Linked DNA regions of Homo sapiens: all the other regions are linked to region 1. Evidence: fine-mapped expression QTL. A gene starts in region 1. Each other region holds a variant in brackets. All regions are shown on one strand. Distances are from middle to middle.

Region 1 (5,208 bases):
ACCTTGGTTTCCTTATCTGTAAAATGGGCATCATACTATGCAGTAAGTACCTACCTAATAGGCTTGCTAGGAGTACTTGAGTTAAATACAAAGTGCTGAGAATAATGACGACACATTAAGGGTTATTTTGCATTTCAGCTATTATGATTATGTTAAACCATGTTTTGACTTCTTTTATCCCTTTCCAGTCCCCACCTGACCTCTTCCACTGCCTGCTTATTTGCCACTGAAAGCTGCCCCCCAAATGGCCTTCCAATCAGATCGTAAGGCTGTTTAACCATAATACCATTCTGAACAGTTTATGGTGCTGACTTCTCAAACTGAAGTCTTGTAGGTAGTTTGCAGTTGAATGCAATGTCACACCCCCTAACATTGTCAGGGAAAAGGTCATGTGCTTTGTTTCCATCCTTTGCACCAAATCCATGCTATCTTCAGGGAAGTGCAACCACCCAATGGTTCCTTTCCCAGACTTGACCCCATGCGGTTACCTATCTCTTCCCCTTGATGGGCCACCACTCTTTTCAGGAAAGAACATTTAATACAATGCAAGGTTTTAACCAATGGCTCACTTGGTTGGTGACAGCTTGGAAAAATCAGGTCTCAGGAGACAATCTGTGGTTACTTTTCTGGGAAGGGGAGTCGGGGTCCCCAGGTTTCATCATTCCTGGGCACATATAGGTAAGAGCGAACCACTACCCCTCCATCCCCCAAGAGAGCGCCTGACAGCATCCTTCAGCCCAGCAAAGCACAAGGCGCAGCACCAGATCTTGGGCTTCCCACTTCCCTCCGCCCATCTTACTTATCCAAGGTTCAGGTCTTTAAGTTGGGACCCTTTGGTTGCTGCTATTGAGCTGGGGAAAACTAGGGGGCAGAATCAGTCAATCTAACCAGCTGTTGGGGAAAGACAGCAGCTAGAGACCTAGTCAATCACGGTAAAGAGCCACGGGGCAGTAAGTTTCATTTCAAGAGAGGTTCAGGAATGGCTTGGTCAAGAGATTCAATCTCACCCAATCAATGAACAGCCCGCAGATAGTAACAATGCCACGCAGAACAGGATGGAGATCATTCACAAGTTTACCCTCCAAAAGTCAGACACCCTTAGAACAATCTCTGGCAAGTGCCATGTAATGAACCCTATCCTCAGACCAAACGTTTTCTCCCAAAGAACTGGCACAGCCACCAGCTTTGTCTCAGGAAATTCACTCCCCCAGTAGCCCAGGGCGGGATTTCTTGCCTACCCAGTCTGCCAGTCCGAGGCCCGCGCGCTTACCATTGGCGTTCTTGCCGCAGATGAGATGCTCATAGGGCTGCAAGACGCCCCAGAGCTCGGCGTCGTTGTTGATGACCATCTCCAGGGCCTCAGCAGACACCTCCCCGCCTCCGGCCCCTCCGCCATCAGGGCTGTGGCTGGCCATCACCCTGGCCCGGATCTCCTCCACCAGGTTCTCCATGCAGGCGGTGAGGGAGATGGCTGCGTACTCGTGGATGCGCACGGAGATTCGGGTGTCCACCATCCAGCGGAAAAAGCGACCCACTGAGAAGGTGAGGCCGCAGCGCGCGGACTTGCCCCGGCGCAGCCCGTCGCCGGCGCTCATGCTGTACAGGGACAGCGCCTTGACGGCTGCCAGCGCGCAGCTCTCGGCCAGCGCCCAGCTGTGCACCAGGCGCACGGCGCTCTGCACCTCAAAGCGGGTGCACTTGGCGTGCAGCACGCTCAGGCGCTGCGCCTCGCGGGCCACGCGGATCAGTGCCCTGCGGAGCAGCCCGGCCAGGCGCCTCACCGCCTCGGCGGAGAACTGGGGCAGCCGCCGGCCGCCAGCGCCTTTGCGGAGCACCCGGGCCACGTCTCCTTCGGTCCAGGGGAACTCCTCCAGCTCGGGGAGCCGCGGACAGCGCGAGAAGAGGTCGGCCACTTCGGGGTCCTCGGGCAGCACCGTGTTCACCGTGTCCCAGCTGTTGTGGCGGCTGTTCATGGAGCCGGAGTAGCACCACCAGGCCGCCCCGCGGTGCTGCTGCGCCGAAGAGTTGAGCGCCTGCGAGTTGGACTTGGAGGACGAGAGGCTGAGCGAGCGGCACGAGTCCCCGGCCCCATACCCGGAGTCCAAGGTCAAGTCCTCCAGCGTCTTCAGAGTCGAGCTGTACGTCCCGGCCATGGGGAGCCTGCCGAGGGCGGCGTCGCCGAGCGAGGGGCACTCACAACTCCATGCCCTCTTTCCCAAGTGGGCAGAAACAAGCTCTAGGCCCTCCGGGCCACCCTCCTTCCTCTCTGCGTCGCGGGGCTCGGCGGCCGCATTGCCTGCCCGGAGGCCGCGGGAAGGTGGCCGAGATCCGTGGCCAGCAGGAGCCCCACGCTCCCGGCGTCCCGACTCGCAGCTGCCACTGGAAAGAACCCCGTCGCTACCCCCCGGCACTCCCCCTTGTCCACCTCTAATTCCCACAAGCAGAGAGTCAGTCCTCCACAGAGAAGGAATCCCGGGAGAACAGGGCGGCGGCGGCAGAAGGAGGAGGCGGCGGCGCAGGGCGCAGGGCGCAGCGCGAGTCCGGGACCAGCCGGCGAGAAAGCGCTCTGCAAACTTCTGCGCTGCGCCGGCCGGCAGCACAGCTGGGTACCCGGCTGCGTCCGACATGCAAATAACCCCGGGCGGCTTACCAATCACCGGCCGCGATGGGCGGGGCTGCACCAATGATCTCCGAGGGGGCGGTCACTATGCAGATTTCACTCTGCCTCGGGTTAAACCCCGCGGCGAAGGAGGCGGGGCTGGAGGCCGAGGGTCGGGCACGCGGCTGGGATGGGGGTGGGGATGGGGGGGGATGGGGGGGATGGGGGGGTGGGGGAAGGGCGAGCCAGCCAACTGGGAGGTGGAGGTGGAGACCGGAAAGCAGCGGTCGAAACGATAGCTCCGGAGCTCACGATTTAAAGAAAAATGCAAAGGAAAAGCTACAGGGCGCTGCCACCTTCCCGCCACCCAGGCTTTGGGCGTTCGCTGCTCGCTTTCGAGCCCTCCGCAGCCAGGCGTCCTGGGGTTGGGGCCAGGAGAATGGGGAGGGCCCCATCCAGGCGCTCCACCTCTCCTCCACCTTCCGCCAGGCCCCTCCCGCAATCCGAGATGAAACGCTGGCTGTGTTTGGAGGGAGGAGGGAGTCCCTGCCTCTCTTTCCAAGTCCGTCTGGTTCCTTTGCGCTGCCGTCTAGGCTCCAATAAGGACAGAATTTCTTAACCTGGTATCTGATCAATGGACGGGCCCCAGGAAGCCTGTGAGTGCCTCCGCCCATTTGTGGTTTCACCTGCAGTTTTCTGAGTGCCACTATGGGGAAGGGGCACCAACTTTTGTCAGATTCTCAAGAGGATCCGTGACTTCCCTGTTACCTCTGTGTGACGATACCACTTGCTGTCAGGTGGGTCCTTTTTGTCCGAGATAGACAGTGTTCTTACAGGAAGAATGAGAAGAAGGTGGCAGAGCAGTCCCTCGCCCTGGGCTGAGCTCGGAACACCTAGCTGGATGCAGGTGTTCGCCTCCTAACGCGTGCCGGTGGGCGAGCCGTATGCCCCCGCGGGACCCAGTTCCTCCGGGGTACAATGAGTGGCTGACCTCCAGGCAGCGCCAGTGCCAACCTGCCTCCGGGCGGGTGTCCCAAACGGTCCGCCAGAGCGCTGTTGGTTCAGCAGTCCCATGCCCGGTGCAGGCATGTCCCGCCGCTGCCCTGTGGCTACTCACACGCACGTGCGCAAACGGACCTGTGCCCCCTCCAGTGGAACCGCAGGCTCAAGGCGGGGATTGTGCATTCGCTCTCCCCAAGTCAGCCTCCCCCACTCCTGAATGGCTCCTTTGTGTTGCATTTTACACAGTTCTGACCTTGGGCCGTGAGTTGGATATGAACTAGAAATGTCTGGTTTGTCTCTTTCCTTCTTAAATTAATGGCCTTTACCCCCGGTGAAACTGCTTTTTATTTGGCAGTTTCGCTTAATTTTGCCTTTCCGCGGGTCTTTATTTATGCAACATCGCCGCCCGATGGTTAGAATTGGGAACAGAGTCAAAGATGGAAGTACTGTAATACCAAAGACGCAAGTCAGCAGAGATCAAACTAACAAAGGAGAATGCAGTCACACTTTACAGACGTGAGATTAGAAATTAAAGTAGGCAATGAGGTCCAACTTGTCAAAAATACAAAAGTAAATTTTATGCAATTTAAAACTTTATTGGGGAAATATAATATTAAAGGCAATGTCGCCCTCTAATGGATATATTCAAAGGAAATGAATTTCAGAAAGGTTTCCCTGTCCCCCCTTTTCTTCGTTGTGCGCACCCATCAAACCTAAAGAGAATTACTTAACTGGAAATTTACAACGGGGAACTTACTGAATGAAAGGTTATTGGAGGAATCATCTGGAGTGGGAAAAAGAGCCTATGGGATTTATATTAATATATTCAAATTACTTGATGACTTAAAGTGTAGATAATCAAACATGCCTCCAACTGAATCTGAGAATCCTGTGAATGTTGACCTGCAACATGAAGATATATTATGCAAAATTCAGCCATGGGAAATGCTTCTGAACAAACAACTGAGTTTCTTTAATAAATAAGTTTCAAGGAAAGAAAGAGATGGAGAGAAGACCTACACATTTAAAGAGACTTGAAAGACATAATAACCAATTACAAGGTGTGGAACTTATGTGTATTTTGAATTTGTTTTAAAAAGCCAGTAAACATTTGACATTATGAAACCATTAGGAACACTGCCTCGATGTTTGCTCTTAAAGAATAACTGTTTTTTTTTTTTTGATGTGGTAATGGTAGTGTGGTTATATTTATCAAATGTTCTTATCTTTTAGAGACACATGCTGAAATAAGTGTTTTGTAGCCCTCAAGAGTTGGCTTCCTCAAGGAAAAAAGGAAGACAAATCCTCATGGAAAAATCTGGTAAAGGGACTAGGAAGTTAGGAAAGACTGTAGATAGATCTCTTGTCTTTCAAATTTTCCTCAGTCTTCTAGTCAGCCTGAGGACTGGCAGTACCAAGTAAACCCAGAATGTGTCTGTGTTTGTGTTTTGTGTGATATGGGAAAAAGAATAGGAGGAAGATAGATAGAGATGAATATATATATATATATATATATATATATATATATATATATATATCCAGCCATCTTAGAATGAACCAATTCTTTGATTTCAGTTCAACTTTTGGGAGTTGGCCAGTGTGGTGAA
Region 2 (5,000 bases), 49 kb before region 1:
TTCTCCTTATACAACATTGTAGACCCAACAGGGGAGGACAAAGCTTGAAGCAAATGGCTCCCACTAGCTGCCTGGAAAGTTTGATTTTTTTTTTTTTTTTTTTTTTTTTTTTTGAGACGGAGTCTTCTCTGTCATCTAGGCTGGAGTGCAGTGGCACAATCTCGGCTCACTGCAACCTCTGCTTCCCAGGTTCCAGGGATTCTCCTGCCTCAGCCTCCTGAGTAACTGGGATTACAGGCGTGCACCACCACACCTGGTTAATTTTTGTATTTTTAGTAGAGGTGGGGTTTCACCATGTTGGCCAGGATGGTCTCGAACTCCTGACCTCAGCTGATCTGCCTGCCTCAAGCTCCCAAAGTGCTATGATTACAGGCGTGAGCCACTGCGCCCAGACTGGAAAGCTGTTTTTTAAAAAGACATTCCAAGCTGGATGTGGTGGTGTGTGCCTGTAGTCCCAGCTACTGAGGAGGCTGAGGTGGGAGGATGGCTTGAGCCCAGGAGTGTGAGGCTGCAGTGAGCCATGACTGCACCACTGCACTCCAGCCTGGGTGACACAGTGAGACCCTGTCTCTAAAAAAAAAATAAGTAAAACCGAGAAAAGAAAGATTGGAAGGTACACCACTTTCTTTAGTTATCTTTTCCTTTTTATAGACAAATATTACTTTATAGAATTCTTCAAAGAAGTTATTTGGGAAATTCTGCTGTGTGAAAGTTCTGATGAGTTCAGCACATAGCAGGTACTTAAAGACGCCTCTGGACTGAAGTGAAGCTTGCTTACTAGTTTTCCAGCCATAGCAAGCAATGACAGCTAGCACCATGTCAGGAAACTTAAAAAAAAAAAAAAAAAAAAAAGAAAGAAAAAAAGCAGACGAACTTTAAGAAGACTCAGTAAAGGGCCACTGCGTGTAGGGTACACTTCCCTGCATGTCTCCCTGAATGAATTCGTCTGTTAGATCCTGGTATCCTAAGTCATAAGGACAACCCAAGTCACCTAGGCTCCTGCAGGCCTGTGCTTCTGTGGGTGAGAGCCCTCCATCCTGGTATTGTGAGAACTGTTCAACAGCAACCAATGCTCCTAGTGCTCCCTGAAGGTAACAGGTTGCTAGGTCACAAAAAGGAGGAGTCCAGCACAATTAGGTCACTTCTCTAAAACACCTGTGAGATCAGAACTGAGAAGTGACCAGCCACATTCTCTCAACGAGATCACATGTTTATCCCTACATCTTCCCCCACCTCCTCATATGCATAACCTGTATTACCACTACATCCTAAAATGCTTGGAGAACAGCTCACACCCCCAGCACTGAGCTCTTCAGCAGTCTCCACCATCCAGAATGCAGCCAATGAGCAGGAAATGAAGGAAAGAGTTTGAGCAGTCAACAGAAACGCCATAGACCCTGTTCATGGCTCTCCGAGAGAGGGCACTACAAATTCTTTCCTTTCACACATTTTCCAAAGTGTAATTTCCCTGGGGACACAGATTGTGCTCTCTTGGTCTGATTCTTATGTTAATGGTTTGAGTCTGGCCTCATAGTTAGGTGACTCTCTGTTTTTTTTTTTTTTTGAGACGGAGTCTCGCTCTGTCGCCCAGGCTGGAGTGCAGTGGTGCGATCTCGGCTCACCGCAACCTCCGTCTCCCGGGTTTAAGCGATTCTCCTGCCTCAGCCTCCCACATAGCTGGGATCACAGGCACGCGCCACCATGCCCAGCTAATTTTTGTATTTTTAGTAGAGACAGGGTTTCACCATGTTGGTCAGGCTGGTCTCGAACTCCTGACCTCGTGACTGCCTGCCTTGGCCTCCCAAAGTGCTGGGATTACAGGCGTGAGCCACTGCACCCAGCTAGATGACTCTCTAAGTCACAGCATGATGGAATCAAAAGGTGGATTTTTTGGAATCAGGACCCTTTGGGCAAGTTACTTCACTTCTCTGTGTCTGGGCCTCCTCATCTGCAAAACGGGGATAACAACAGTAGCTCCGACCTCCTAGGTTACTGTGAGGATTACATGTGTGGACACATGTGATGAGCTTGGAATACAGGATACAGGGCAAGCATGCAATGGATGTTTGTGATTATTAGTCATTGCTACTATATGTAAATTTCCAGCCCATCACCTGACACATAACAAGTCCTCAAAACAGCCTACTGACTGAAAGAAGATGGCTGATTTTATTTCTCAGGCCACAGCTTGTTTAAAGCAGCAAGAAATGACAGCTAACAGCATTAGAAGGGCTTAAACATTTACAACACAAAAAGCAGGCATAAAAACTTAAGACTGCAGTGTGGGGCCATTTAATATTGGGACCAACATTCGATCACATCTTGGGGTCACTCCCTGAGGGCACAAGCACTGTAAGAATACTCATGGATCTTGAGTCATCAAGAACATAGTCACATCTATGCAGCTCACTCACTGTTTAAGAAAACAGGAAACTGGCCAGGTGCAATGGCTCACACCTGTAATCCCAGTACTTTGAGAAGCCGAGGCGGGTGGATCACCTGAGGTCAGGAGTTCAAGACCAGCCTGGCCAACATGGTGAAACCCTGTCTGCACTAAAAATACAAAAATTAGCTGGGCGTGGGTGGCAGGCGCCTGTATTCCCAGCTACTCAGGAGGTTAAGGCAGGAGAATTGCTTGAACCCAAGAGGTGGAAGTTGCAGTGAGCTGAGATCATGCCATTGCACTCCAGCTTGGGCAATGAGAGGAAACTGTCTCAAAAAAAAAAAAAAAAAAAGAAAA[G/A]AGAAAGAAAGAAAAGCAAAGAAAACAGGAAACTGTGTGAAATGCTTTTCAAATGCTTTGGTCTCGAAGAATTAAAATTTTATTGCAATGACAATGTTTTGGCACTTACAAGGCATGAATGTGCTGCAATCCTGAATGCCTCTATGGTCTGATAGGCTGAGATTTCAGCAGAGGCAGATTTACTACGAAGCCAAAGAAGCGTAAACTTCAGGCAGCCTCTACTTATACAGGTTGCTTCCAAAACTTCTGGAGGGGGCCTGGCAATGTGTTCACATGGACGTGTGTTTTTTTGCCAAAGTAAGATTAGCCACTGTCAGTTGATACCATTGTCTCTTTCCACTGCAACTGACCACATGTTCCCATGCATTGGGTGGGCATTTTGGGGACCTTGTTGAAGGAAATTGAGTTGGGGATACAGTCAGCTGGGTTCAGTGGTTAGCAGTCACATCCACTTAGAGTTAATACATCACTAACAATCCCTTATGCCAATGACTTCCAGAAGGACTCCTATTGCAAAATGTGTTATGACACAAGGGTGCAGGTCAGAGGTTATATCAAGATATGAACGGGCATTACCGTGCTCAACACCAGAGGCAGTGCTGGGAGCAGAGGAGAAACGAAACTCATGACGGACAGAGTCAGAAGCTAGGCTTGTGGAAAGTTCTTCCAAATCTCACTGCTCAGAAATGAAAGAAACGTGGCCACGATTTCCCCAAATTTGACAACAATCCTAATACTTGACATCACCAATAATGAGTTATGAAGTTAAAAAAAAAAATTTTCAAAACCATTGGAGAAAAGAAAAACAAACTTTTGGTTAACTATTTTAAAGGGAAGTCTCAATTGTTCCTTTAGAAAACAGTACAGAATCATTGTCATAGGAAGAGGTGATCAGAGTCAAAAAAAAAAAGATGGGGAAAAACAGTATTGTCAAGGTGTGTCAGGCAGTTAAAGTTATTGATTTGTGATATGTGTGTCAGCTTTAACAAATTTTTCTCATTTTAAATAAATATTCACTTTTATATCTCATTGTGCATTTGTAATTTTGGATTCTTTTCCTTAACTGTATTAACTTCAGGTGTCAGGAAACCCGGATCACTCCTGACAGCGGCCTAGCGATCACTTGGGCTTGACCTTGACATTGAGTAACAGTGATAGTAACTTCTATTACATTGAGCAATCGCCCTGCATCTAAAAGGGGGAGGAGCACAGTATGTATGTCTCCTGCTCATCAATGACAGGAGCTCAGGGAGGAAAGCACTGAGAGCCCAGGAAGGGCTCGAGAAGTAATCCCTCATCCATATGCAGATGACTTTCAAATCCTTATCTTCAGATCCATTATCCCATTTTCACTTTACCACTTTATTATTCCACAGATACCCTAAACTTGGCCCCTGTCCTGTGTCTCTCCCTCTCTCAATTAAAGCTCCAGCATCTACCCTGCTGTGAGTGCCAGAAATGTGAGTCCCGATTCACCTACCCCTCCCTGCAACCCTCTGAGTTTCGAATCAACTTCCAAATCTGTCACTGCTGCTTCTCTCTACCGCCACCCTCACGTCCCCAAGCTTGCCTTGCCTCTCCCCTGAAGTACTCCATGGTGCCCTTGTGGGTTTCCTCCTCACACACCTATCCCTCCAGCCAGAGCAAGCCCTCCTTTCAGAGCACAGTTCTGACCACATCAACCTCCGCTGCATCCCTCCAGCCTTTAAGTTCCTGTTCTTTTCAGCCTCAGGGCCCCTCACACATGCTGTTCCCTTTCCTTGCACCTCCCTCACCCCCCAGCACCCTCCCTCTGCTAGTCAAGTCCTCCTACCCAACTGGGTCACGGACCCCTGTTTAAGAAGGAACATGGCTCTCCTCCGTGGGTGGACTGCATGGAGGTTATGCTCTTTAATGTGCGTCTCCTTCATTAATCCACTGATGGTCACCTGCATCTCATATCCTTAGTCCCTTGCACAGCTCCCCACACGACACACTCAAAAACAGCTGTGAGAGCAAATGTGTGCATTTGTGCTGTTTTTGGAAGGGAAGCAATTTCCCCGGTGGTCCCTCTCTTCAGCCAAGGTCCTGATGGAGGATACCAGTCAGACTTGTGCTGGTCCTGAGGAAACCACAGAGAGATGCCGTTTCTCCATGTCAAAGGGGCTGTATGCACAGCCTGACCCCTTCCACTGCCTTCAGTTTCTGACCTTCTTGGCCTTGGGAGAAGAGGCGGCTCCTCAGAGCTCTAGCTTTCACTGGCTCCAGGATGCTGCATCTC
Region 3 (5,000 bases), 120 kb before region 1:
AAAGGACATTAGGTAAAAACTAAGGAAATCCTAAAGAAGTATGAACTTTAGTTAATAATGTTAATAGGGGAAACGGTGTGGGGTATCTGGAAACTTTCTGTAATACTCTTGCGACTTTCATGTAAATCTAAAATTGTTCTTATGCTGGGAGTGGTGGCTCATGCCTGTAATCCCAGCACTTGGGGAGGCCTAGGTGGGTGGATCATTTGAGGTCAGGAGTTCAAGACCAGCCTGGCCAACATGGTGAAACCCCATCTCTACTAAAAATACAAAAAATTAGCAGGGCATAGTGGTGCACGCCTGTAGCGCCAGCTACTTGGGAGGCAGAGGCATGAGAAGCACTTGAACCTGGGAAGCGGAGGCTGCAGTGAGCTGAGATCGCGCCACTGCACTCCAGCCTGGGCAATAGAGGGAGACTCTGTCTCAAAAAAAAAAAAAAAAATTGTTCTTAAATGAGACATTTAAATCCTAGAGAAAAGGAATATCCCAGAAGCACCATCACGAGGCCTAACCTAATCCCCAGCAAGGGACCTCTCGAGACCTTCTGAAGCCCCACCACAATCTGTAGCCTTCTCTCACAGACCACTTAGTATCTACTCATTTACATATCCATTTGTTTGCAAAGTATTTATCGAGCCCTTGGCCTTGGGTGCAGGGTGGTGGTTGGTCAGGGGGCATGGTGGCTCCCACTTGTAATCTCAGAACTTTGGGAGACCAAGGTGGGAGGATCACTGAGACCAGTTTGGGCAACATAGTGGGACTCTGTCTCTTAAAAAAAAATACATAATAATAAATAAAATTAGCCAGGCGTAATGGTCCCAGCTTCTTGGGAAGCTGAGGTGGGAGGATCTCTTGAGCCTGTGAGGTCAGGGCTGCAGTGAGCCATAATCACACCACTGCACTCCAGCCTGGGTGACAGAAGGAGACTCTGTCTCAAAAAACCCCCTAACCTCCCCCCAAAACCCCAAATGCCCCGCAAAACATATACTACCCCCTCCATCATGCTGGGAGCCACTGAAGGGAGACACCCTGTCATAGTGGTTTGGTCCTCCAGTGGCTAGGGAGGTAGCTGTTTGCTAAGTGAATGTTAAGTCCATCCCAGTCGCTTCCTGCTAACAGTCCACCACGGGAAGTTAGGCATTTAATAATGAGGACACAATTAGGACACCTGGGCTTGGTGCATGAGGATTTTTCTTTTTATTTTTTTGAAGACAAAGCAAAACAAAAAAACAACCCTTTCTTTTTGAGACAGGGTCTTGCTCTATTACCCAGGCAGAAGGGAAATGGCATGATCATGGCTCACTGCAGCTTTTTTTTTTTTTGAGACAGAGCCTCCTTGTTGCCCAGGCTGAAGTGCAGTGGTGTGACCTTGGCTCACTGCAGCCTCCGCCTCCCAGGTCACTGCAGCGTTAAACTCCTGGGCTCAAGCAATCCTCCTGCCTCAGCCTCCCAATTAGCTGGGACCACAGGGGTACACCACCACACCCAGCTAAGTTTCTAAAAATGTTTTGTAGAGACAAGGTCTCACCATGTTGCTCAGGCTGGTCTTGAAATCCTGGGCTCAAGCAATCTGCCTTGGCCTTGCAAAGTGCTGGGATTATAGGCATGAACCACTGTACCTGGCCCACCTTTTTTTTTTTTATTATAAAGGTAATTATGATTATTTTTTAAAAATCAGAAAGGAATAATGAATAAAGTTTCTTTTAATACTACCTCCCAGAGATAACTATTATTAATATATTATAATTTTTCTTCAAATAGGCTTTTAGTACAAATAGTACATGTACAAATACATGTACTAACCTATCAATTTTTTAAAATCACAAACCGAATTTGAGAAACAGGAACATAATGAAATTATTTTTCACCTAATGCTGAATCCTGTATTTTGTGGACATCTTTTCAGGTCAGTGTGTTTGGATATATATTTCTTTTTAAGACCTACACAGTTTCCAGGGTCATCGCTCCCTCAAATTTGAATTGTCAGCTTGATCCCTCTCAGAAGACTAGAGAAACCATACATCCCAGGGCACCTGAAGCAGGGCCAAGCTGGGCTGCAGGTATTTTCCACAGTGCTCTGGCAAGGCCTTCTCCGTGGCTCAGTTAGGGGGTTTCCCTTCTCCCCTCCCCTCCCCTGTTGGGGTGGGGGCAAGGGTAAGAGCGTCTCCCTGGAGGAGGTGCCTAAAGCAGGCTGTGAGTCACTCAGATGAGCTTCCGGGTGAAGTCATGCTGAGAAGCTATTTGCAGACACCTTACTCAAGGAGGCCTAAGGAAAGCATGGGGGGATGCCATCTCAAGCGAGAAATGGAGAACTTTTAGATTCTCCCCTCCCTGGCCTTTCTAGAGCAGAGGCTGTAACCGGAATATCAGAG[A/T]CACAGTAAATTACCTGGGATTTCCCCATCAGGGAGATTCCTGGGTTACTCTCACTGATAACAAGACTAACTACTCACACCCAGGGTCCCAGGGTGAGGCTGGGCAAGGGAGGCACCAGGGCTGGTTCCACTGCTCAGAGGAGAAATGCAATTCTCTCCTGTGCCTCAAAGTCCAGCATTGTGAGAACACCTCGGATGCCAGCTCTGGCTCCGCCTCTCACAAAACCTAGGTAAAGTGCTTTGTGCGGAATCTTTTCCTTATGAAAAGGCAGGGCTACCAGGCAGTGCCAAGCCCTGGGACAGTCAGGTAACTAATTGCCTATTGCGACTCCCAGCTTACAGGGTAATGCTACCTGCTCCTGCTTAACCTCAGAGACTGGGAATCCCAGTTCTGCCACAGAAGAGGGCCCTTTTAGTTTCCCTGAAGCACTTATACAGAGATTATTGTGTTTATTTTATTTATTTATTTATTTATTTTTGAGACAGAGTCTCGCTCCTTCGCCCAGGCTGGAGTGCAGTGGCGCTATCTTGGCTCACTGCAAGCTCTGCCTCCTGGGTTCACGCCATTCTCCTGCCTCAGCCTCCCAAGTAGCTAGGACTATAGGCGCCCGCCACGGCGCCTGGCTAATTTTTTTTTTGTATTTTTAGTAGAGATGGGGTTTCACCGTGTTAGCCAGGATGGTCTCGATCTCCTGACCTTGTGATCCGCCTGCCTTAGCCACCCAAAGTGCTGGGATTACAGGCGTGAGCCACCGTGCCCGGCCGAGATTATTGTGTTTATTAATTTGCTTACTTGCTCAGTATCTGGTGCCCCTACTCCCTCTAAAATGCAAGCTCTGCATAGCAGGGATTGCCTGAAAAATGTCAGCCACATAGATGCTCAAGACATTTCTAGAAAAGAAATGAATGCCATCAGCCAAATATCTGACCATGACCCGGGGTAAGTACTTAACCTCTAGACCTCAGTTTCTTCATCTGTAAAGCGGATATGGTTTCTTCTCTGTAGTGGTTATGAACATATCGCATAAAGCACTAAACCCAATGCCTGACACATAGCAAGAGTTCAATAAAAGGGCTCTCTCTGTTATCCTCAGAGATGACAAGGATCTTGAACCCCACAATAAACTGCTACATCTCCAATACTGAATGAATTAGCCTCTGTTCAATAAGCCCCACAGGAAGGGGAGCGGGGGAGGTCAAAAGGAATTGGTGCCTGTGATCCCACCTTCCTAAGAGGATTTGCCTATCAGAGCCATCCAGGACCTGATTGGGGATCTCCTTCTGGCTTTTAAGCCACAAGCCATGAATACTGCTGACACCACTCCTATGAAGTAGCAACAAGTGATCCATCGCTAATTGCACTTTGCAGAGCTTTTTCTGATCCATGCTAGAGGCATTAATTAGCTGCAGGAGGTCAGCGCTAGCTAAGTGAACACTCTTTGTGCCCCAGGTAAGGAGACCAAGCTGAGAAGGCAGAGCAGAGCCTGTTCCTCCTTGAAACAAACTTTCAGGCAGCAAAGCCCTAAACAGAGACAGCTGTGTGGTCTGGGCAAGCACAGCGCCTAGCTTCCCTGCTGCCCACACTCAGAAGCAGGCTGAGCGCCAGACGGGGAGAGATGCTGCTGGGTTCTGGGGTGGACAGACATCGTGGACATCGGGTGCAGGCTGGTGGGTACACCCCTGCAAGGAAGAGAAGGGTAAAGGCCAGGTGGGAAGTCCGTGGATATTCTTGTTGGCAGAGGGAGATTAAAAATAGAAAAAAGAGACAGGGCTGGAGAAAGAGGAGGGGAGAAAAAGTATTAAAATAGAGTTTTTTCCCTGGAAAGAAGAGGTCATTTGGAACAGTCACTTCATATGAAAGGTAAAAAAATGTGTTTTGAAATAGCTGAGAAAATATGGAAATTTTCTTCTTCCTTTGCTCTTGTTGTAGAAGGGTAGAGAATTCACACTTGTCTTCTACCTCCAGAAGGCACAGGGCAGAAAACACAGGACTCTCTTTAATGTGCCTTTTAAGACAAAAAATTCTTTCTAATTTGGGGTGGGTCACTCGACAGGTTTCAGAGAGGTTATTTCTAGGGCTGGAGAAGGACTCTGTGCCGCCAGTTTTCCCTAACAGCAGCATTTTAAGCAGCAGATTTTAGGTAGCTTGAAGCCAGAGGACCCCATTCTCTTTTGATGCCTCCCCGGCACCCCCTCCCCTCAATCCACTGATTTACTCCGGGAGGCCTCAGGGCCCAAGGCCAGGCCTTGATCTCCTGGGGAAGCAGAAGTGATTGAGATGCCGATACATCAGGCCTGTTAGCCAGGCCAGGAGGGAGACAGGAGGATAAAGAGACAAAGAACCGAGGAGGGTAGATAAACGAAATCGCATCAGCCGCAAAGCTGCTCGCTCCTAGATAGATTAGCACCTTCCTCTGCCCTAATCATTCCAGACAGCCTCTGCAGCTTGGGTGTGCCCAGCCATCTGGGAACCCTCAGGGATTCGGACTCTATTTTGGCAGCTATTATCTGTGGGGGAAATAATTCTCTCCTTGGTGAACCTCAAGTTTATGAGAAAGTTGAATGTATGCAAAAAGACAAAATCATTTAAACTGTACAAGGGAAGCAAGCTGTTTAGAAGTATTTTAT
Region 4 (5,000 bases), 160 kb before region 1:
GAGGATTGCATGAGCCCAGGATGTCAAAGAGGCAGTGAGCTGAGATTGTGCCACTGCACTCCAGCCTGGGAGACAGAGCAAGACCCTGTTTCCAAGAAAACCCCCCAAATATGTTAACTCATTGGGTCCGCATACCTTACAGATGATTAAGAGCCTTGAAGAGGTTAAATGACTGGTTGAAGGTTATAAAAAGTGGCAAGGTAGATCTCAAATGCACGCCTTTGAATAGCAGGGCCCTCCTCAGATGGGGCTATTCTGGCTGGCTACGAAGTCATGACACCAGAGGTTTCTAGGCCCGACCCCCAATCAGAACTCTGGGAAGGGTTCCACACTCCTCCTGTTTTCATGTCCTGGATACCAGCAGGCTCCAAGCCTTCTGAGTGTGCCACCCTCCACAGAGGCGGAGACGTGCTGTGCAGGGCTGGGGAGAACGAGGCAAGAGGCCAGGATCTGAGGCTTAGCAAGCGGACCGCTCTGTGGACCAGTGGCCCTCTGCCATTCCCACTCTCTCTGCCTGGCCACTCCTCAAGGGTCTGGCTTCTTTGCTGCTGCTCACAGTAGATGCAGTCTGGAAGGGTGCCTGGGGGACCCCAAACCCTCCAGCAGCCCAGGTTCTGATGTGGAGAAATGGTCACCTCCTGTCGACCTCAGGCCCTCTGCACCTCTGACTGCATGTCTCCCTCTGTCTCCTCTACTTGATGACGCTGCCTTCCAGCAATTTGCTGGCAAGCGGGCGGCCCTCTTGCCTTCCTACGTGTCTGCGTAGTCTTTATCCTTACTGCCCCAGACCTCTCATTCCCCAGAAGGGTGATGGCTGAGGAGGTATATCCTCTGCCAAAGATTCTGTTCCAGCTAGCCCATCCCTCTGCCCCCAGGCACAACCAGCAAGGGCCACATCTAACCAGATGGTTGTCCTTTCTCCTCCAGACCTCAGAGGAAGGAGGCTCCCGATCTCCCTGGGCAACCTGGATCCCTGACAAGAGGCTCTTTCACTTTCTAAGCTTGATCTCCGGTGATGACACACCCTGCAGGGCAGCAGCTGTGACTAATTCTGTGTTTTAGACTCTGCCTTGTGCCTGGCTGGTGCCTGGGATGCAAAGCTGCCAGTGAGAAAGGCACCCTGGAAGGGTGCAGGGAGGCTCCAGCTGCAGAGCTTTCCCAGGATAGTGAGGGGGTGGGGCTGGAATGGCCCCAGAGAAGGTGGCCCCAAAGGCCAGGGCCCACCCAGCATGCCTCAGTGCTGTAGGATCAGGTCTCAGCAGCCAGCTGGGAAAGCCACAGCCTGGCACAGGGAAAGGCAAAGGCCTTGAGGTGAGAGAGACCTCAGGTTTGAATCCTGGCCTCGCCACTTATCAGCCAGGTACCCCGCGGCCTCCTGTACTCACTTGTGAAACGGAGGTAATGATAGCACCAAACTTGCTGAAGTTCTTTGGGCCTAGAAGTAGGTAGAAATGGGCTTTAAAAGAAGGGCGTATGTTATCTGACTTTGTCCTACCGGATAGAATTACTTAGCCCCATTTTACAGGTGAGGAGCCTAAGGCATGGAAGGGCCCTCTGAGCCCAGGCCTCTGCCCCAAAGCCTGTACTGTTTCTTGATGCACCAGGCTCACTGCAGGAGTAGATGAAAGGAGGTTAGAGGCTTCTCATTCCCTGCAAGGCTGCCCGCTCACCACTCTGAGTTCCTGCTGCTTCTGCCCCTCCCTCCTCCCACTGTCTCTTCTCCCAAACCAGAGCAGAGAGCTCTGGGGAGAAGGCCCCTTACGGAAAGATGTGAAGTCCCCACCAAACACTGCAGAAGCAGCAGGTGGCTTAGCAGGGAATGCCACAGTGAGCTCCACACAAAAGAGATGAACACACGTCCCTTCCCTTTGTCGCCATGGATGTGGTCACACATAGCCCCTAATTGAAGGAATCAGGGTACCTTTCTTTAAAGCAGAAATATGAGGACAGACTTGAGTGGTTCCATCAATGATGTCATGCTGCCAAACCCATATCACCAAACTGAGCTCCCTCTCCCATGTGTGCAAGGCAGTAGAGGAGGTCACTTAATCCCAAACAAACCCAGAGAGCCACCAATCCCCAAACAGACAGTCTCTACAGCCAGACAACCACGGTCACATTGAAATCAGGGGCTCCGTCCAATTCTGGCTGGGTGAACTCAGTCCGCCATGCTTCCAGGTGGGACAGAGGACGGGGCTTCAGGAGGATGAAGTGGAGCAAGAGACAGACGTCGCACATCCCCAAACTCACAAAAGCAAAGCTCTGCCACTCTGGAACCCTAGCAAACTCCAGCTACTATTTGCATCAGGAGAGGTTTTCCCCAGAGCTCTGGTGAGGGTATCAGGGTGCTGGGGCCTTGATGGGACATTGGCCCAGCCCAGCCTGCAGTAATGCTGTAAGCTCAGCGCTCCCAGGAAGGATCCCCACAGCCTCCAGGGCCTTCCCTGTCAGTGAGCCAGAGGGCAGCAGATCTGCTCAGCGACAGGAGCCAGGCCACCAGGGCGCCGTCGGGCTGTTGGCTCCCTCAGGTATTTTTAGGGTTGTCCTCCTTTCTGTGTCATAACTTAAAAATTTGGTTTTTTTTTTTTTTTCCTAATGGGGGTTCCAATTCCCCA[T/G]GTGTCTGATATTCATTTGAAATGATTCATGGAAAAATATCTTTGCTACCAAATTATTTGTGCTACAGATAGTGCGGTTTTTAAATAAATGGCTACGTAAACACATGCACGTGTGTCTACTACCATGCAAGCTCAGCTATTATAACCACATAGGGCTGTGCAACTCAGATCATGAAGAAACCCTGATGCTGTGTATTAGAGTACAGGGGGCTGGGAACCCTCCTGGGGGAAAGCCACAGGACATGACAAAGATGCCCGGCGGGGGGGGGGAGTGGGGGCGGGAGAAAGTGCCAGCAGAGGAATGACTGCCCCTGGGCCTATAGCCATGACAGCCTGAGGGCCCAGCAGCCAGGGCAACAGGCCTGAAGAAGGCGCCTGTCCTCCCAGTCACCTTTGTGTGAATGACCCGGCCTCAGCCCAGCACCTTACCAAACAGCAAGCAAGCCTCCTGCCTCTTCCTCCCAGATATCTTCCCTGCTCTTTTTCCTTCCCAGCTGACTCCTTCAACCACAACACTTTTCCACAAAGCAGGAACAGCTGGGGCTTAGGGCCTATGCTTTGGCCCCAGCTCCCGCCAAAGGTGTCTTTCAGGATGCCCAGGGCTCCACCTGCAGCCTTCTTGCTGTGTCAGGCCCAGGGTGGCCCTCCTCAGACTTGCATTTGCCCTCCAACTCCCAGAGAAGTAAAACAATGATGACATAAGGATACTAGTACTGATAACAGCAATGGTACCATTTACTGGGACCCTACTATGCGTGTACTGGGCCACTGCTGTTTTATATTCCTCTTAGTGACAGGAGGTACAGTGTAGTGGTTATGAGCCTGTGTCGTGGGGCCAGTTAGTCTCTCCAAGCCTCCACTTACTCATCTGTAAATGGGGCTCTGAAGAACACCTCTTTCTTGGTAGTGTGTGAATTAACTGAGCATCCGCCTGCAAACTGCTCAGCACAGTGCCTAGCACATAGTAAACACTCAGTAAATCCACCTTAGTGCCTTTGTTTTCTGGGGCACTGAGGAAGCAGACCTGGCTGTGGAGCCAGCTGTGGATCACAGAGCTGATGAGACTCAATGCCCCCCAAAGACAGCGGACAGCCAGGCAAGGGGACTGCAGAGCCCCTGGGACTTCCAATATTGAGGTCTCAGATCGTCTCCCTCCAGGTGGGGCACTGAGGCCCGTGGGCTCTGCCTTTCCTGGGCTTCACTGAGTGGTGAAATGTGTGTGGATGGGGCTTCCTAAACTGAGTGCAAGCCTTTCCCACTTCCTGGACCCTCAAACCCACAACTCTTGAGCCCATGGACAGACCTTACCTTAAGTGGCCAAGCAGTGGCCTCCATGTGAGGCTCATGCCAGCATATACAATGTTTGGTACGAGTTATAAAAAAAATATTATATTTTCCAGGTAGAAAATTTCAAAAGGCAGCCCTCAGAGAAAACCCATTAGAAAAGGTATCCTAAGACCGGGCGCGGTGGCTCACGCCTGTAATCCCAGCACTTTGGGAGGCCAAGGCGCGTGGATCACGAGATCAGGAGATCGAGACCATCCTTGCTAACACAGTGCAACCCCGTCTCTACTAAAAATACAAAAAAATTAGCCAGGCGTGGTGGCGGGCACCTGTAGTCCCAGCTACTCGGGAGGCTGAGGCAGGAGAATGGCGTGAACCTTGGAGGTGGAGCTTGCAGTGAGCCAAGATTGTGCCATTGCACTCCAGCCTGGGCAATAGAGCAAGACTCCGTCTAAAAAAAAAAGAAAAGGTATCCTGTCCTCAGGCTGACATGGCCCCACGTGCATCCCCTACTCATGCCCCTCATTGGGTTCTGTTGTGCAGTATACAACCTGCACATCTGTTCTTTGCAGCCTTGCTCCCAGCTAGGAAAGTGTTGGGACCCTCTAGTGAAAGTACCTGACTAGAAGCCCACAGGCTTGGGTCCAGGGGCTATTCAACCACTAACCTGCTGGAGATCAGAGAGCTGCCAGGGCCAGGATAGTCTCCTGTGTTAAATGAATGGATGGGGCAAAACACACCCAGGACCCCTCATAACAATGACGGCAGCAATGATCATTTGATCACTTTTGAATGGGATAAACCCATGAAAAGAGGTGACAGCTACCACTGGCCAAGGGCCAGTTCCCACCTAGCCCCCATCCTACATGCTTTTACTCAGAGCACTAACCTTTCTAGGTGGGTGTGACTATCTCATTTTATAACAAGGCAGCTGAATTTCAGAGAGCCCAGTGAGCTCATGCCAGACTGGGCACAGAGGCAGAAGCACACGTTCTGAGCCTCAGTGGCCCCATGCTGCATCAGCTCAGAGGAAAAAAAAATCCCACTGCACACCAGTGCAGGCCTTCATCCATCGGAATTCCTGGGCCACCTCCTCACAGG
Region 5 (5,000 bases), 27 kb before region 1:
CCGGGCAGGCATTCAAGGAACCCTTATTGGCTCTCAACATTCACACTATCTGGATCTAGTTAGTTGTAGGTACTTCAAAAGGAACATTTTATAACACCCCTCCTTGTCTGGTTTAGTTCTGAAATGGAAAGCAAATTGGCCACTTAGCCATCCAGAATCCTGAAAACACGTGGCCTCTCATATGGTCACACCTTCTATTTGCATCTACAGCTGATTAAAAGCAAAAATCTACGAGATGAACTTTTCAATAATAATTGTCAACACTCAGTTTAGACCAAACAGTTGAACTAAAACTTCAAGTATGTCAAGGTAGCACTGGGTCAGAGATAGACTAGAAGAGAAGTAACATTTAAATTCATCTGGCACAATTTAAGATCCCATTAAGACAGAAATAAACCCAGCCTGCAAGCTATTCAGCACCTAAATGGCTCACTCCTTCAAACCTGTAATCTGAATATTTAAGACACCCTCTAAAGAAGTGCTTCTCTTTCAGAGAGGAAAGGTTTCATTAGAACAAATAAACACTGAAGTCAGTGAATATAACAAATAATTGCTCTAACAGCAGCAACCAAAAGATACTCTCATTAATGGTCTGTTGAAACTCTTCAAATAAAGTTACCCTTGCCCTACTTAATGTGGTGATGTGTTTCTCTAGAAGACTGGTTTTTCCACTCCACTTCCTTCCAGATCCATCTTCCATCCCACTTCCCACTCCACCCCCCTGCCCAGATCACCCAGCATCTTCTCTCCACAGCATCCAATCTTCCTCTTCTATCCACAGCTGACCTACAGTTCTCAGGCCATGAGGGCTCCCAACCTTCCCTCTCAGCATGGGGTGGAGCATGTGGTTATGGACTACAATGACTGGTTCAATGATGGGGCACATGACCTAGGCCAGGCCCATCAGAGCCAACGAGACTCAAGTCCAGAATCTTTGAGCTATCACAAGAAGCCAACTGGTCCCCTTTCCTACTCAGCTTCAAAGCTGAGGCTGCTGCAGCTAGTTTGCAACCACAGGAGAAAGGCTGCCAGATAATGGAGCCAACCCAGGAGCAGAATCCAGAAGCAAGAGTAAGCAAAAGAAACAGGGTCCCAAAGGTACCAGTGAACCTCTGAGTCAAAGTGTACCTGAAGCCAATCCTACTTTGGGACTTTTAAACAAGCCAGTAAATTCAACTGTGTCTGTAGCCTGCAGAGTCCTGACACTGAAATGGTAAACAGAAGTGTACTTAGAAGCTACTTTATGGTTTCTTAGCTTTAAATTACTTAGGAAATGAGAATGATGCACTGGATTCCCAGAACTCCGTCCCATCTCTGTGCCCAAGTATGAGTCCAGGACTGGCTATTTCTGACCAAGTGGTTGCTGGCTGGGAAGTGCCAGGGACTTCACTTGGGGAATACTGCTTAGATAAACAGGTCTTGGGTAACGACAAAGCACTGATCTCAGGACTCCTGACTTCTGGTCCCTGCTGGGTCACTCCTTGGCCATGGGACCTCAAGTAAACCCTTCTGCACTTCATTTTCTTCTAAAGGAAAACAAAGCCCTCTGCCTCTAACACAGGGAGAATAGGAGCCAGTACTGCCTGGTATTTTGGGCTTTGAGTTGGGTAGATCTAGGTTCAAATCCCTAGTCTACCCTAGATCCAAGATTAGGATTTGGGTCAAGAGGCCCAATCTCTCTGACCCTCAGTTTCCTTCTTTGTAAAATGGGAACAAATCAGAGTATTGTTGCACAGAGTTATTTTAAGAATTAAATAAGGTAAAGTTTATAAAGTGTTTAGTAAGGTGTCTGATATATAGAAAGACACAATAAATGGTAGCTATAATAGCTGTGAGATCAAATGAGAAAGAATGTGAAAGTGCTTTGTAAAAACCATGAGAAACTGTACCTGTATTAGGGATTATTGTCATCACCTCTCATTCCTAAAATGGCCATGGTTATAACATCATAGTGTGGGGTAAAGGCAATAAACTTATGAAATAAATTCAATTGATAAATTATACCCAATCCAGCAGAGAGATAGTTGTCAATGAGGCATAGGGGTGCAAACCCCATGCTATAACTGTCATTTCATCAACAGTTTAGCACACTCCCAAGAAATATGTTAGGGTGGTTCATGGAAAATGCTATCAATAGTGACCTGTTAAATGTTCCTCTGGAGGCCTGGAACTGTTCCCAAGCTATGTGCATGCAGTCAGATCCCTTTGGAACTTTTCCAGAGCTACATCTGCAAAAGTACAGGTAAGATCCCCTTCCTGATTCTCCAACTTCTTTTAACAACTTCATGGGCAGGATGCAAATCTGCCTCTTTATGAATGAGAAATTTCAGTTGCTGAGCTTGGCAGCAGAGATTTCCAAGAAATCCAGCCTTCCAGTGGACCCCCTCCTATGTTCCACCAGCACATCCCATAAAACGAGGGAGTTCTGGGTTTCAAATGGGCTGCTTGCAGGAAAGAGACAGCTGTGGTAAAACCAAAAAGATATTCCTTCCACGTGTTGAAGAATAAAGTCCTCCTGATTGAAGGGACTTTGGCTTCTTTTTAGTTTGGAGGCATTTTAAAAAGCATACATGACAAGCCTAAGAAGTGCTTACCACAAGCATATAAAGGGTCACTTCAACTCATGTAAGTATTGCTTAAC[G/A]CGGAAAAAATTAAAGCTTGAAAAATCAGGACCATAAAACGCAAGGAGTAAGGAGTTGTGGAAAAACAACCCCATCTGAGGTTGCAATACTCCTTCAGGAAAATAGATACACTGTTCTCTTACTCTCTTTTCTAACTGTAGCCTATATACCAGCCATGTGTATTTTGGACTCCTTCCCATCCTACCATGATTTCCTGTCTAAGTCTGGGTCCCATGGTAACTGGAGCAATTTGGCATGCTGGCCCCAAACACCATGACTGGCCACGTGAGGGATGCCAAGTGGGTATCTCTTCCATAACAAACATCTCTCTCTTCTGGCTCTGTAATGAGGTTACTCTCTTACTCATAAACTCTTACTAATAAAGTCTTCAGTTGATAAATGAATCTTCCCATCCAGCCTCTTTCACTCACCCAGAAGAAGTGATAATCTTTTGCAGAGCCAGAAGATCTATGTATTCAAGTTTACATTGCACGGGGTAGAAGGGTTGCAAGACTGCGGGAAAAAGAAAAATTAAAAACCCCAGCTTTGCTGCTAGCAAAAGTGTTAAGTAGTTCAGTAAAAGCCAAACCTCATTTATGGAGTGAGCAGAAGTTATCCTTGGAAATGTATTTCCTGGTGAGAGTCCCAAGGATATGGTGACATGAGTCACAGGTTTTACAAGCCTGAGGGCTAACTTCTATTTATCTTTCAGATCTCAACACAAATGACCACCTCTGGGACTATGACAACTCCATGCCCCCAATCTGATTTTGTAGCCATGGTCTTCCCAGTATAGTATGCAATAGCCTGTATTACAACTGCCTGTTTGATTCTTGCTTTCGGACCCAGAGCTCCTGAAGGGCAGGACTGTAACTTTTCGCCTCTATTCTGATGCAGCACTTAACGTAAAGGAGGCATCTGTAAATGCATGTGATGTGGCTGTAGGCAGACCTAGCTCTAGATCACATCACAAATTTGGAGCATTCACCCTCTAACCTGTCCCAGCCTCCTGCATCTTCACTGCCACCTACCCACTGCACAGTTCTCCCTTCTCCTCCATGAAGACCTACCTTAAGGAAAGGCTACGCTAGTAATCATTCAGACTAAGGTCAAATGGAATCCTACACGCAAAATTATTCCCTCCGAAAATGTAACCCCCACACTCACACTCAGGGTATTATGCACCCATCCACCCTTGACCTAAGGGAATTAAATTATAATTGGATAATTTTAGCCAATCACAGGGGTAGATATTTTGGTTGGGTTTTTTGAGGAGGAGCTAGAAAAACTGGCTCCTCCAGCTGCTTTTGAAAGCACACAGTGACCCACTCCTGGCCCTCAGCAAACCCAGCATCCAGGGACCACCCCCCGAGCCCAGGGGAGTTGGTCCAGCCTAGCCCGCTGTCCAGCAATGCCTCTGTTGATTTTGCTAATAGAGCAAACAGACCCTCTTTGAAAAAGAGGCAAAGGCAGGAGAACTCTGCTTTCCTGCCCATTTCCTCTGCCTTATTAAGCAAGAAGAACTGGTTTCAGTTAAAAAAAAAAAAAAATCCTGAAAGCCACTGATGGAACAGTCTCTGAAGTGCGTTCAGGGAGTCACAGGACATGGAAGGAAATGGAGGGCACAGGAACATGAATTATGGTGAGCACTGGGGAAATGCCTGCTTCGTCTGGGTGAGAAACAGGCAAAGACTTTGAGGTCAACAATGGCCATTCATAAACAAACAGCTTTAACTTATTAAGCATCAAGGGTTTTACAAATATTTCTCGAATGATTTTACATGTGTTGTCTCAGTTGATTCTCCTAATCCAACCCTATAGCACAAGTACTATCACTTTAAAAAATAAACTGAGGCTCAGAAAGGTTTAATAATTTACCTACCCCCAGAAGTTCAAGAACAGGTAAAAGTAATTGAAGGTGGCAGGAGTCAGAATAATAGTTATGTGGGGTAGACACTAACAAGGAATGGCCATGAGGGTGTCTCCTAGGCAGGAGTGTTTTAAATCTTGATCTTGACCTGGGTAAGTTACATAGCGGCATGTCTGGGTAAAAATTCATCAAGCTGTGCATTTAAGACTCTGGTCTTTATGCATCCCAATCTATACTAAAGGAGAAACAAAACAAAACAAATAAATAAGAAAAACAAACAAACAAACAAAATTCCCAAAAACTAAAAATAAAGGAAAAACAGGCTGGGTATGGTGGCTCAAGCCTGTAATTCCAGCACTTTGGGAGGCCAAGGTGGGCAGATCACTTGAGGTTAAGAGTTCAAGACCAGCCTGGCCAACATGGCAAAACCCTGTCTCTACTTAAAATAAACAAATTAGCTGGGCATCGTGGTGCTCACCTGTAATCCCAGCTACTCGGGAGGCTGAGGC

Which allele goes with the higher level. Alleles are on the strand shown, and positions count from the first base shown. SD is a standard deviation of normalised expression in the study named. Not every link is listed here.
For the expression in monocytes after Pam3CSK4 of the gene that starts at base 2,580 in region 1, allele T in region 3 goes with a higher level than allele A (large effect, 0.93 SD a copy in Quach 2016).
With allele T in place of G in region 4, the expression in aorta of the gene that starts at base 2,580 in region 1 is lower (small effect, 0.22 SD a copy in GTEx).

Evidence for each region.
Region 2: its variant is fine-mapped to the expression of ABTB2 in blood mononuclear cells (TOPMed, PIP 0.98).
Region 3: its variant is fine-mapped to the expression of ABTB2 in monocytes after Pam3CSK4 (Quach 2016, PIP 0.95). The same link has a PIP of 0.9 or more in monocytes, monocytes after LPS and monocytes after R848.
Region 4: its variant is fine-mapped to the expression of ABTB2 in aorta (GTEx, PIP 0.91).
Region 5: its variant is fine-mapped to the expression of ABTB2 in lung (TOPMed, PIP 0.93).

What each region holds. Positions count from the first base shown.
Region 1 is chr11:34,355,431-34,360,638 of GRCh38, forward strand. ABTB2 (ankyrin repeat and BTB domain containing 2) reads right to left here and starts at 2,580. Exons shown (of 17, transcript NM_145804.3): 1 at 1,271-2,580. The coding sequence starts at 2,153. RefSeq lists an enhancer at 1,506-1,615 and a silencer at 2,566-2,765.
Region 2 is chr11:34,306,153-34,311,152 of GRCh38, forward strand. The region is part of intron 1 of ABTB2 (ankyrin repeat and BTB domain containing 2); the gene reads right to left. Among named protein-coding and RNA genes, the nearest start is that of ABTB2, 49 kb to the right of the region's middle. The variant G/A (reference allele first, on the strand shown) is at 2,741.
Region 3 is chr11:34,232,025-34,237,024 of GRCh38, forward strand. All of the region lies in intron 1 of ABTB2 (ankyrin repeat and BTB domain containing 2), which reads right to left. Among named protein-coding and RNA genes, the nearest start is that of ABTB2, 120 kb to the right of the region's middle. RefSeq lists enhancers at 1,977-2,501, 2,178-2,507. The variant A/T (reference allele first, on the strand shown) is at 2,373.
Region 4 is chr11:34,192,201-34,197,200 of GRCh38, forward strand. All of the region lies in intron 3 of ABTB2 (ankyrin repeat and BTB domain containing 2), which reads right to left. Among named protein-coding and RNA genes, the nearest start is that of NAT10, 89 kb to the left of the region's middle. RefSeq lists a silencer at 250-435 and enhancers at 904-1,789, 1,957-2,785. The variant T/G (reference allele first, on the strand shown) is at 2,616.
Region 5 is chr11:34,328,662-34,333,661 of GRCh38, forward strand. The region is part of intron 1 of ABTB2 (ankyrin repeat and BTB domain containing 2); the gene reads right to left. Among named protein-coding and RNA genes, the nearest start is that of ABTB2, 27 kb to the right of the region's middle. RefSeq lists a silencer at 727-927. The variant G/A (reference allele first, on the strand shown) is at 2,642.